2 separate regions of the Homo sapiens genome follow, and region 2 is linked to region 1. Evidence: fine-mapped expression QTL. Tissue or cell type: whole blood. Region 1 holds a variant in brackets; the other region holds the start of a gene. All regions are shown on one strand. Distances are between the middles of the regions.

The links. PIP is the estimated chance that this variant, and not a neighbour inherited with it, causes the effect.
Region 2: it holds the start of TIGIT, and the variant in region 1 is fine-mapped to the expression of TIGIT in whole blood (INTERVAL, PIP 0.96).

What each region holds. Positions count from the first base shown.
Region 1 is chr3:114,204,853-114,210,068 of GRCh38, forward strand. No RefSeq gene overlaps it. Among named protein-coding and RNA genes, the nearest start is that of DRD3, 28 kb to the left of the region's middle. The variant C/T (reference allele first, on the strand shown) is at 2,614.
Region 2 is chr3:114,291,212-114,296,343 of GRCh38, forward strand. It overlaps TIGIT (T cell immunoreceptor with Ig and ITIM domains), which reads left to right and starts at 2,817. Exons shown (of 4, transcript NM_173799.4): 1 at 2,817-2,911; 2 at 4,334-4,663. The coding sequence starts at 2,851. RefSeq lists enhancers at 1-72, 1-175, 73-1,015.

The DNA.
Region 1 (5,216 bases):
AGTGAGTTGCCTATCACTGGAATCATTCAAGTGGGAGCTTGATGATCATTCCTCCTTTATTATTTTTACCTCTATACTTATTAAGAGGGGTGGAGGGAGAATATATCACTGCTTTCCCCTTGGCACTCAATAGCTATATGTTGTATAAACAAATATTTATTGAATTCATTGCATGAATGAATTAGAAGAGAGTTTTCTCTATGGTATGAGAAGGCATATTTTGCATTCTGAGGAGAAGAAATTAAAAAGTTAGGGTAAATATTGTCAAATGGTCTTTAATTCAGAATATTTTGGTGGGAGGAATCATGGATAGTGTATTAGAATATTTTAAAAGAAAAGCAATGATTTGATTACAATCAGTTAACATGAAATAATCAGCACATGAAACTGGCTACCACAATAGCTGTTTTAAAATAATTTCAAATTATCCCTGTGGGAGAAATCTGAACTAAGATGGAAAGGCTCATGGCAGGCCCTCAGAACCTAGGTGAGTTCATATGTTCAACTTAGCAACTTTCTTTTGCTATTTCTTTATAATCTTAAAGAAAAGGCTACCTGTTCATTTGTCACAAAATTTGAACAGGTGTTCCTTTGCCTTCTAGTCTAGCTTATCCGAAACAGCACAAACAGATTGTCCTAAACAGCACACAAATGAGTCTTATTTCCTACCCAGGAGTGAAAGAACAGTCTTGGTCTTCGTAAGTCCTTAGTCATGACAATGCTTCTTTCTTTATTCTCAGGAATCAGTGTGCTCTATTTAAAGATATTGGCACAGTCTTACTGGCTTTTCAAAACTATTTGTAATGTAAGGTGAACTGGACACTAGAATGAATCTGGAAGATTTTAATTGCTCTAGGAATTTCATCTAGTTCTCACAGTGACTTCAATCATGGCTATTATCCAGTTTACACCTCCCAATTCTGCCCTCACTTTATCATACGAATGAAGCAAGACTGCATAAGTAGAATGGCATTCACACAGGAAGCATTCATTAATGTTTGAATGAAGAAATGGGAAATGATCTATTTTATTCATCAGATACTTAGAAACTAAAGTTAAATAATTCTTCCCTCATTTAAAGTTCCACAGACAGATATTTAAAAGGTTTGGTAAGTGATTGATAGAGCTCTGAAATCATATTAGCTGCCATTTATTTCTCACTGTGACATGTACCAGGCCACTTCTAAATCCTTTATATGCATTATTTCATTCATACCTTACAATATCATATGAACCAGGCATTGTTATCTTCCTTTCACAGAGAAGAAATGGAAGTATAGAGAGGTTGACCAGCTCAAATCACTCTCTCAGGAAGCTTCAGAGCTGAGATCCAAGCTCCAGGGTACTTGGCTTCAAGGCCAGAGCCACTGGTCTAGAGTGCCATAGGTAAGTAGCCATTATAGAAGAACAGCTGAGCAATTTTAAAACACGTTGTGAAATCACATCAAATCTTGAGGGCAACTAAGGTGAAAAGTAGATGATCTAAAAGGGCAAAATTTGCTTTTGTGTAAGTTTTACCTGAAACTATGAGCGTATATCCCCCAAACTATCACAGGAAATATAGTAATCTCTCCCCTATTCCTTCTCAGATTAGAGCTAGGTATTTATGGAAAATGTGGTATCCTAGAAATGTCAACCAAGGAAGAAGCTATTGGTGGAAGAAAATTTGACCTCCCTCATCCTCTCCACAATCTCTTTAACATCTCATATCTGGCAAGGCCACACAGTTCAAGGCATTCAAACGATTGCCTTCATGGGTTTCTGCTGATGGTATGATTGTTTGTCAAGCACCTGCTATATTCGTAATTTTTAAAAATTGTAGTAAAACATATATAATTTAAAATTTGCCATTTTCATCATTTTAAAGTGTACAATTCAATGGCATTAATTACATTCACCATCTTATATAACCATCACAATTTCCAAAAATCATTTCATCATCTCAAAGAGAAATTCTGTGTCCATTAAGCAATAACTCCCCATTATTCCCTTCTCCCATTCCATGGTAACCTCTAATATACTTTCAATCTCTGTGAATTTGTCTATTCTAGATATTTCATATAATTGAAATCATGCAATATTTGTCCTTTTGTGTCTGATTTATTTCACTTAGAGAGAGAAAGAGGGCTTAATTCTTTTTTCAGTAACCCACTCTCCAGATAATTCACTCTGCAAAACAGCATTAATTCATTCATAAAGTCTGAGCCCCATGACCTAATCATCTCTTAAATATCCCACCTCTCAACATTGTTGCACTGGGGATTAAGTTTCTAACACATGAACTTTGGGGGACACATTCAAACCATAGCACACCACCTTTGGCTGTTGTGAATAATGCTGCTATCAACATTAGCTTATAAGTATCTGTTTAAGTCTTTGTTTTCAATTCTTTTTGGTATATACCTAGCAGTGCAGTTGCGGGGTCATAAGGTAATTCTATGTTTAATGTTTTGAGGAATAGCCAAACTGTTTTCCAGAGGGCTATACAATTTATATCCTCACCAGCAATGCACAAATTTCCATTTTTTCCACATCCTTACAAACATTTGTTATTCCTTATTATTTCCTTTTTTAAAAAGTAGTCATCCTAGTAGTTATGAAGTGGTATCTCAT[C/T]GTGGCTTTGATCCGCATTTCCCTAATGACGAATGATGTTGAGCATCTTTTCATGTGCTTATTGGCCATTTGTGTATCTTCTTTGGAGAAATGCTTATTCAAGTGCTTTGACATTTTTAAATTGAGTTGTCGGAGTTATATTTATTATCTTTAATTTTCATCACAACTCTGCAAATTACGCATTATTGCTTTAACTTCATAGAGGAGAAAATCAAGGCTGAGAGACTGTTACTTGTCTGAGGTCCTACTATAAGTGGCAGAGCCAGAATTTGAATCCACATATGATAGGGCATCTCTAAGAGGGTCTCCATGATTCTCCCCTCCTGATACTCATGCCCTCATGTAATCCCTTCCCCTGGGGTGTGAGGTGAATGTTAATGACTCATTTCTAATAGATATAATATATCAAAAGGGATGGGATGCCGCTTCTGAGATTAGGAAGTGAAAGATTGTGGCTTGCATCGTGCTTGCTCTTTTTCATTCTCTCGCTTGTTAACTCTGAGGGAAGCTAGTTGCCACATTGTGAGCAACATGATAGAGAGACCCATGTGTCAATCAACTGAAGGAGTCCTCTGGCCATCCAACAGCCAGTGAAGACGTGAGGTGTTCAGTCCAGAAAACTGTGAGGAACTGAATTTTACCAACTATGTGAGGAGCTTAGAAATCAGTCCTCCCTTAGTTAAACCATCACATCAGACCACAGCTGTGGTCAGCACCTTGATTATAGCCTTGTGAGAGACTTTGGGGTACAGGCATCTGGCTAAGCTGTGCCCAGATTCTTGACCTATAAAAATACTAATAAATAATTAATATTTGTTGTTTTAAGCTGCTAAGTTTTGAGGCAATTTGTTATGCAGCAATAGATAACTAACGCTTCATATCTACTGCTTTTTAAGTAAAAACATTAAATTGGTTTAGATGCCAAGCAAAGACATTTTAACAGAAGATAATGGGGCAAGTACTCTCTCTGGACCTGTTTGGGCACAGCAGACATGGGCCAACCTAAAGAAGGAATTAAATTTGGGATGGGAATAGTCAACCTGACTGTGGTTATGAGAAGTTTATTGAAAATAATTTTGTGTGTTGACCTTTTGGATTATTCTTGTGAGTCATGGGGTTCAGCCTATACTCTAGTCTCCCTTAGGAGCACAGAAAAGCTATCTTGAGATATCCTTACCTCTTCTCTGGAATCTCTAGGTTCTTCCATTGGACAGAAAGGTACTAGGGAGAGGGACAAATACGTTATGACTTCTTCCTACTTTAGAATTTTTCTGGATTAAAACCTCAGTGTTCATTTATCAGGCTTTTGGCACTCGTTCATACAAGAAATCCAATCTATCATCATCAACATCAGTAAAAAGTATTGATGGTGCGTTGTGTTCTGAACCTGTATTTCTTGAATGGACTATATGGGGTTCAAAGAAGTCTTTGCAATTATAGGCACAATGATGTATGTTTGTGCAAATTGCATTTTTTCCTGCAGAGAGGGGCCATAACTTTCATGGACTCTCAAAGGGGTATGGAATCTAAAACAGTTAAAGACCATAGCTTGGGTTTCTTATTAGCATGCTTACTCCTGGCTATAACTGCACCCTTATTTTGAACTCAGATCAGGGATGGACCTTTTCTGCTGTCCAGAGTCTCCTGTTGTTGTTCTTCAGATCACAAGACTGGACCTTTTGGATACTGACAGCAGCTCAGCTTGGGCCCAGGTAACCACAGCCTCTTAAGATACTGTGCCTGAGTTGGCCAGGCAACCTCCCAGTGGGAGCACTGGTCCATGCTGTACAGTCTAACTCCTATCTGCTGGCCCATTGTGAGGCTCCTTTGTGCTTTTGTTTTTCTATCTCAGGGCAATTTACTCTTATACATACCTGGTAATGCCAAGAAGAGACTTTTTGGCAAATAAATCTCTTCTTTAGTGTCAAAATGATAAACAATTAGCATTGAAGGTAGAAGAACTCTAGTCCAAATTATATTATCTTATCACAGTCTTCTCTCCAGTGTTGAAGAGCTTCTATCATCCTTGCAAAGAACCCATTCCATTGCTGGTCAATTTTGTTGGAAATATCTTCCAACAAACCCTAGTGTTGCTCTGCTTCTTTCTTCACATTGGCAGCTGTTCCAATGATTGAAAACAGCTCTCAATTCAAGTTACTTTAAGAGTTGTTTGGCTGGGGGTGGTGGCTTGTGTCTGTAATCCCAGCACTTTGGGAGGCCGAGGTGGGTGGATCACCTGAGGTCAGGAGTTTGAGACCAGCCTAGCCAACATGGTAAAACCCCATCTGTACTAAAAATACAAAAATTAGTTGGGCATGATGGTGGACACCTGTAATCCCAGCTACTTGGGAGGCTGAGGCATGAGGATCGCTTAAACCCAGGCGGCCCAAGTTTCAGTGAGCTGGGATGGCGTCACTGCACTTCAGCCTGGGCATTAAGAGCAAGACTCTGTCTGAGAAAAAGAAAAAGAGTTGTTCATGTCATGTTTTTGAGCCCCCTCATCTCGCTCAACTTGAGAGCATCTGTTTGTCTACAATAATGGAGAGGGTTTTTCTCCTCCCTCACAAGGTTCTTGAAAGTAGTCCCATCCATTAAGTCTACCT
Region 2 (5,132 bases), 86 kb after region 1:
CAAAGACACTGCTGGGAGATTGGTCTGTGCTCTGGGAGAACCCTAGGTTGTGTTTCCCGTGTACAAGCCACCGATCTTGTGGAAGGTACCACCACTCCCAGCCCCGCTTGGCTGAGGGCTGCGGGCCACAGGTTTTCAGGACCGTGCTTGTGGTTGGAGGCTGTGGACTCAAGTGCGGCTGGCCCGGGACTTTCACAGGGCGCAGGGCGGGCTAGGGGAAGGCCCAGCTGTGAACTGATAAGGGGGTTTTACAGTCTAGGCCAGCACTTCTTCCCCTTTCACGGGCAAACGTGACATTCTTTTTCAGCACCTGTACTCACCCAGCTGCATCAAGGCGGACCAGACTTGTCCAACTCACAGCCCCAAAAGTCAGGGCAGAATAAAGCACAGTGGCTGATTTTAGCATTTTTAAAATAGAAATGTGAGTCAGCACCTGATGGACCTCACAGATCCCTGCTATGCCACGAGGGCTGCTGACTGGCCTTAAAAGCTCAGGGTGGCCCGGGGAGCTCTCAGAGCAGGCCTGCTTCTCACAGCTGAGCCGCTCAGTGCTGGGGGCTGGTGTTGAGTGGGTGGGAACCAGCCAGGTTCCCCGTGGAGTCTGTGCAGGAGGCTCTGGAGGGTCTGGGGTAGATTCCCTGGGGAGAGACTTCTGTCATTTGCTTTCCTCCAAGGCAGCCTCAGGGTCTAGCTGGCAAGTGGTCACTTTCCTGCAGAAACATGCTATCCTCCTGTTCTATCAGATAAGGAGGGCAGAATGAAGAGGTTGGGTGGAACCCTGGCCTTGGAGTCTGGAGACTAGGATTTTACTCTTGACAAAGCACATTATATAGATAGGGATATTGTCCTCCAATTTTCCTTTCACTTCCTTAATTAATATTGTTATCAATACTACTGTTGATGTATTGAACTCCTGCCATCTTCCAGGCACTGTGCTGAACACTTCACCAAACACTAGAGAATTAAATCCTCACAACCCTATGAAAGAGGTACTCTTATTCCTATATGCACATGGGGAAACTGAGCCTTCAGGAGGTTGAGAAAGTTTTCCAAGGTCACCAAACAGGATGACTTTGGACCCAGTCTGTTAATCATCCCCCTCTAGAGCACCATTGATCAAAATGGACTTGACCATATTCCTCTTTGGACTGGTTACTTAGCAAAAAACAGAAAAATTATTTAACAATTGTTTAAAACCACCTCTAAGTTTCTCTGGATATCTCATTATATAAGAGAGGTCTCACCTCTTTGGCTCCCACCCAGCTCAACTATGGAAACACAGGCTGTAAATTTTTATAGCCCAAATCCTAGTGTCCACCACTTTCTGTGCTCTAGTCCCACTAGCTGCTCTTGGCCCTGCCACTCCTGGCTCCCCGGCCTTAGTGAGTTTGGGAAACATCCCTCCAGTTCAACCTTGGCACCTTCCCTTGGACACACATTAGGTATTATTTCTCCTTCAGCTGAAGGCTTTGTAGCTATTGAAAGGCAAGGCATCTCTTGATGTGAGCCTTGAAGGACAGGTTGCTTTGGGTAGGCAGAGAGAAGCTGGTAAGGCGTATATTGTCTAAGGGTCTGGAGGTGGGGTATAAGGGGTATACAAGTCATAGAGTTGGGGATAGGCAGAACCCAGAGAGGGGAGAAAACTGGCCTGAGATAGAAGACCTTGCAAGGGAGAAGGAGGGTAGGAGCCTGGATGGTGTGAAATGCTAGAGGTGCATGGCTGGAATGGAGGGGGTGGGGCACCAGGCTTCAGATGCTTCTGGGTGCAGATGCAGATTTTCAGGATGTACAACATGGAGCATCCCCAAGGCAACTGTGTTGAGAGCCTGCGAGGCAGGTGAATGTGGATCTTCTACCCCCTCTCCTGACTGAGTTCACCAAGGAACAAGCTTTGTAAACTATTTGAGGGTAGGGGCTGTGATTATTTACTCTCATATCCTCAGAGCCTGGTGTTGAGGTTGGTGCTTTGTAGGCACCCAGGGACTTTCAAATGAATGAAGGGAGGGAGGGAGGAAAGAAGGATGGGTCCATAGTAGGACCTGGTGATGGGCTGGGAGCTCCAGGCAAATGTCAACCAATCCCTCTCCTGGGTCAGCTCCCAGGGGCTCACCCTTCTTTGCATTTCCAGCTCTCATGAGGTCATTGTGCACAGGAAAGCTCTCTCCTCTAATCTCCTCTGATCCTACTGCACCAGAGAAATCAAGCCAGAATTCAATAAAGTCTCAGTCCAGATAAACAAGACAAAAGAAATAAGATTCGAGTAGAAGATCTCCTTCAAGGGAAAGTTGCTGTGTTTGTCCAAGACCTTTGTCCCATCCATGTATCATCCCCCAAGTAAACACTTCTTGTTCACCTGTTCATTAGATTTCAAGTGCAGTCCCTGGCCTGTAAGTCCCTACAATGATAAGCTTCTCTTATCATTGCACATTCTTCATCAGGAGGATGCCAGAGGAGCTCAGCCAACAGTTCCTCATCAGTAGCAGATTCTTCAGAATCTTGGGCACTACACAGATGCCCTTGAGCTCTTTGAATAAAGGCTGATTTTTAGAAAAAACATTAAGACAGAACTTAAAAACAATAGATTGACTATAATCCAAAGACGAGTGTACCTCTAACCACAATTTTCATTTATTTTTAAATGTTTCCTTCATGGCCTTTCTTGTGGCTCACCCTATGCAGTTTGTGTATTTGTTGACAACTTTATGTGTTTTTAATATGGTTTTTGCCAAACTTGGTTTTTCCGAGACCGTCTTTTCTCAGAGGCTCAGTTTTACCGTCCTATCTGCAGTCGGCTACTTTCAGTGGCAGAAGAGGCCACATCTGCTTCCTGTAGGCCCTCTGGGCAGAAGCATGCGCTGGTGTCTCCTCCTGATCTGGGCCCAGGGGCTGAGGCAGGCTCCCCTCGCCTCAGGTAAGGCCTGAAACCCAGCAGAGCAGCAGGGAGGAAAAACAAGGCTAAGCTTGGTTGGAGACTTGGGTGCTTGTGTAGGGAAGACTCCAAGAGCATGCCACAGCTGCTTGAGAGAAAGAAATTGCAACTTTTAGAGTCCTGTGTACTCTTATTTAAGAAAGGACAATCTCTGAGAATGAGGTGGGGTTCTGTTTTTGGTGGCAGATGAAGGACTTTGCAGACTTCCGGGGTTGGAGGAGCCTGACTGGCCAGCACAAGAAGGAGCAGGAGAAGAAGAAGGGCTGGGCAGGAGGCATTGCCAGTTTGCTTTTAGAAGCTCATTCCTGCTCCAGCTTCTTTTCTGTTGCCTTTCAGGAACTTTCCAGGAAAACATTATAAGTTCTCTGTGAATTGAAAATGTCTTTTTCACAGATTCCAGAGGTTCTACCACTAGAGACTGATTTTTTGTTAAATTTATTTCTTCTATATTAAAAATCAGAGTCAAATATTTCTGAGGGAGGGGAACACAAATATTTAAAAACTGTGGTATAAATTAGTTTTTATGTTGCCTTCTGAACTATCTGAGGATGGAGATGTGCCCAGGGTTGCTGGGGAGAGGTTAAGTGCTGAGAGGGTGGTTATGCCTGGGAGAAGCAGGGTTTCCTGCTAAGCTTCCTTTGCTATTGGATTTCTTGGCTTTCCTGAAGGTTTTTTCAGGCACTGCAAATGACAATCAACCAAACAGCAAGGTTTTATTTCAAAGGATAATGCATCCAGCATAGAACTAGGCCGCAGGAAGAAACATAAAAACAAAACAAAATAAAAACAGAAGAGGTGGTATCAGCTGACAAGGGCTTATATTCTAAGTGGGTAGACAAAATAGGCCTACGAAAATAACAAGCTGGCCATGAAGCTACATAGCAGAATATGCGAGGGGGCAACGTGCTAAGTTGTGTAGTCATAAGCCAGGCATTTAGTAAGGTGCTAATTATACAATACAGGCAGTGAATGTGAAAGGAAAAGGGAGGTTGAGATGGGCTGAGGTCTTCTAGGAGGCGGGGAGGGAGTGCAGCCTTGACAAGCCTCCCTGTGGGCGAGGTGTAAAGAGGGGCAGAAGTCAGCTCTGGAAGCATAGGGCAGTGGGTGGGGAGGAGATGGGCTGGGCTGGGCTGGAGTAGAGATGTGTGGAGAAGGGTGAGAAGACTGGAAAGACAACCTGAATGGGGGACTGGGAGCCTTGAATAACAGGCATGGAGAGGAGCGTCTCTTGAAATGGAAGAAACAGGAAATAATTACAGCCTCTATGGAGGAGCAACAGGATGGACTGGAGAAACTATCATTCCAAAATCCAGTTGGGGCCTCAAAGGCCCTTAGAATTTTTCTAGGAAGGTTGAAGGCCAGCTGCTGACCCAGGACTCACATGTGCTTCGTCCTCTTCCCTAGGAATGATGACAGGCACAATAGAAACAACGGGGAACATTTCTGCAGAGAAAGGTGGCTCTATCATCTTACAATGTCACCTCTCCTCCACCACGGCACAAGTGACCCAGGTCAACTGGGAGCAGCAGGACCAGCTTCTGGCCATTTGTAATGCTGACTTGGGGTGGCACATCTCCCCATCCTTCAAGGATCGAGTGGCCCCAGGTCCCGGCCTGGGCCTCACCCTCCAGTCGCTGACCGTGAACGATACAGGGGAGTACTTCTGCATCTATCACACCTACCCTGATGGGACGTACACTGGGAGAATCTTCCTGGAGGTCCTAGAAAGCTCAGGTATTCCTGCTGGAGCAAGTTGGTGGATAAACCTCTCCCTCTAGCATAGAAAATGCAATCCTGAAACACTGCACAGCAGGGCTTCTCAATTCGGGATCACATTTGAATCACCTGAGGAGATTTTAAATCATACTGATGCCGAGGCCTCACCCAGACCAATTCAATCAGAATCCCTAATAGCAGAGCTAAACAAGGGTAAGGTCTAAAAGCATTTCCAGGTGATTCTAATGGGCAGCCAATACTGAGAACCACTGTTCTTATGTAAGAAGCACATCTTACCTATATTTCCTAGGAAGACCAGTTGATGAGGTCATATGCAAAAGTTCCCATTTATTGGTTTAGTATAATTGTGCAAATTAGAATTAACCCCTAAGTGTATAAAGAGTAGAGCTGGTTAAAAACATAGCCTGTGCTAAGTTTAATTGTACAGTAATTTACATTTGTGTGGTACTTCCAAGTTTCCCAAATG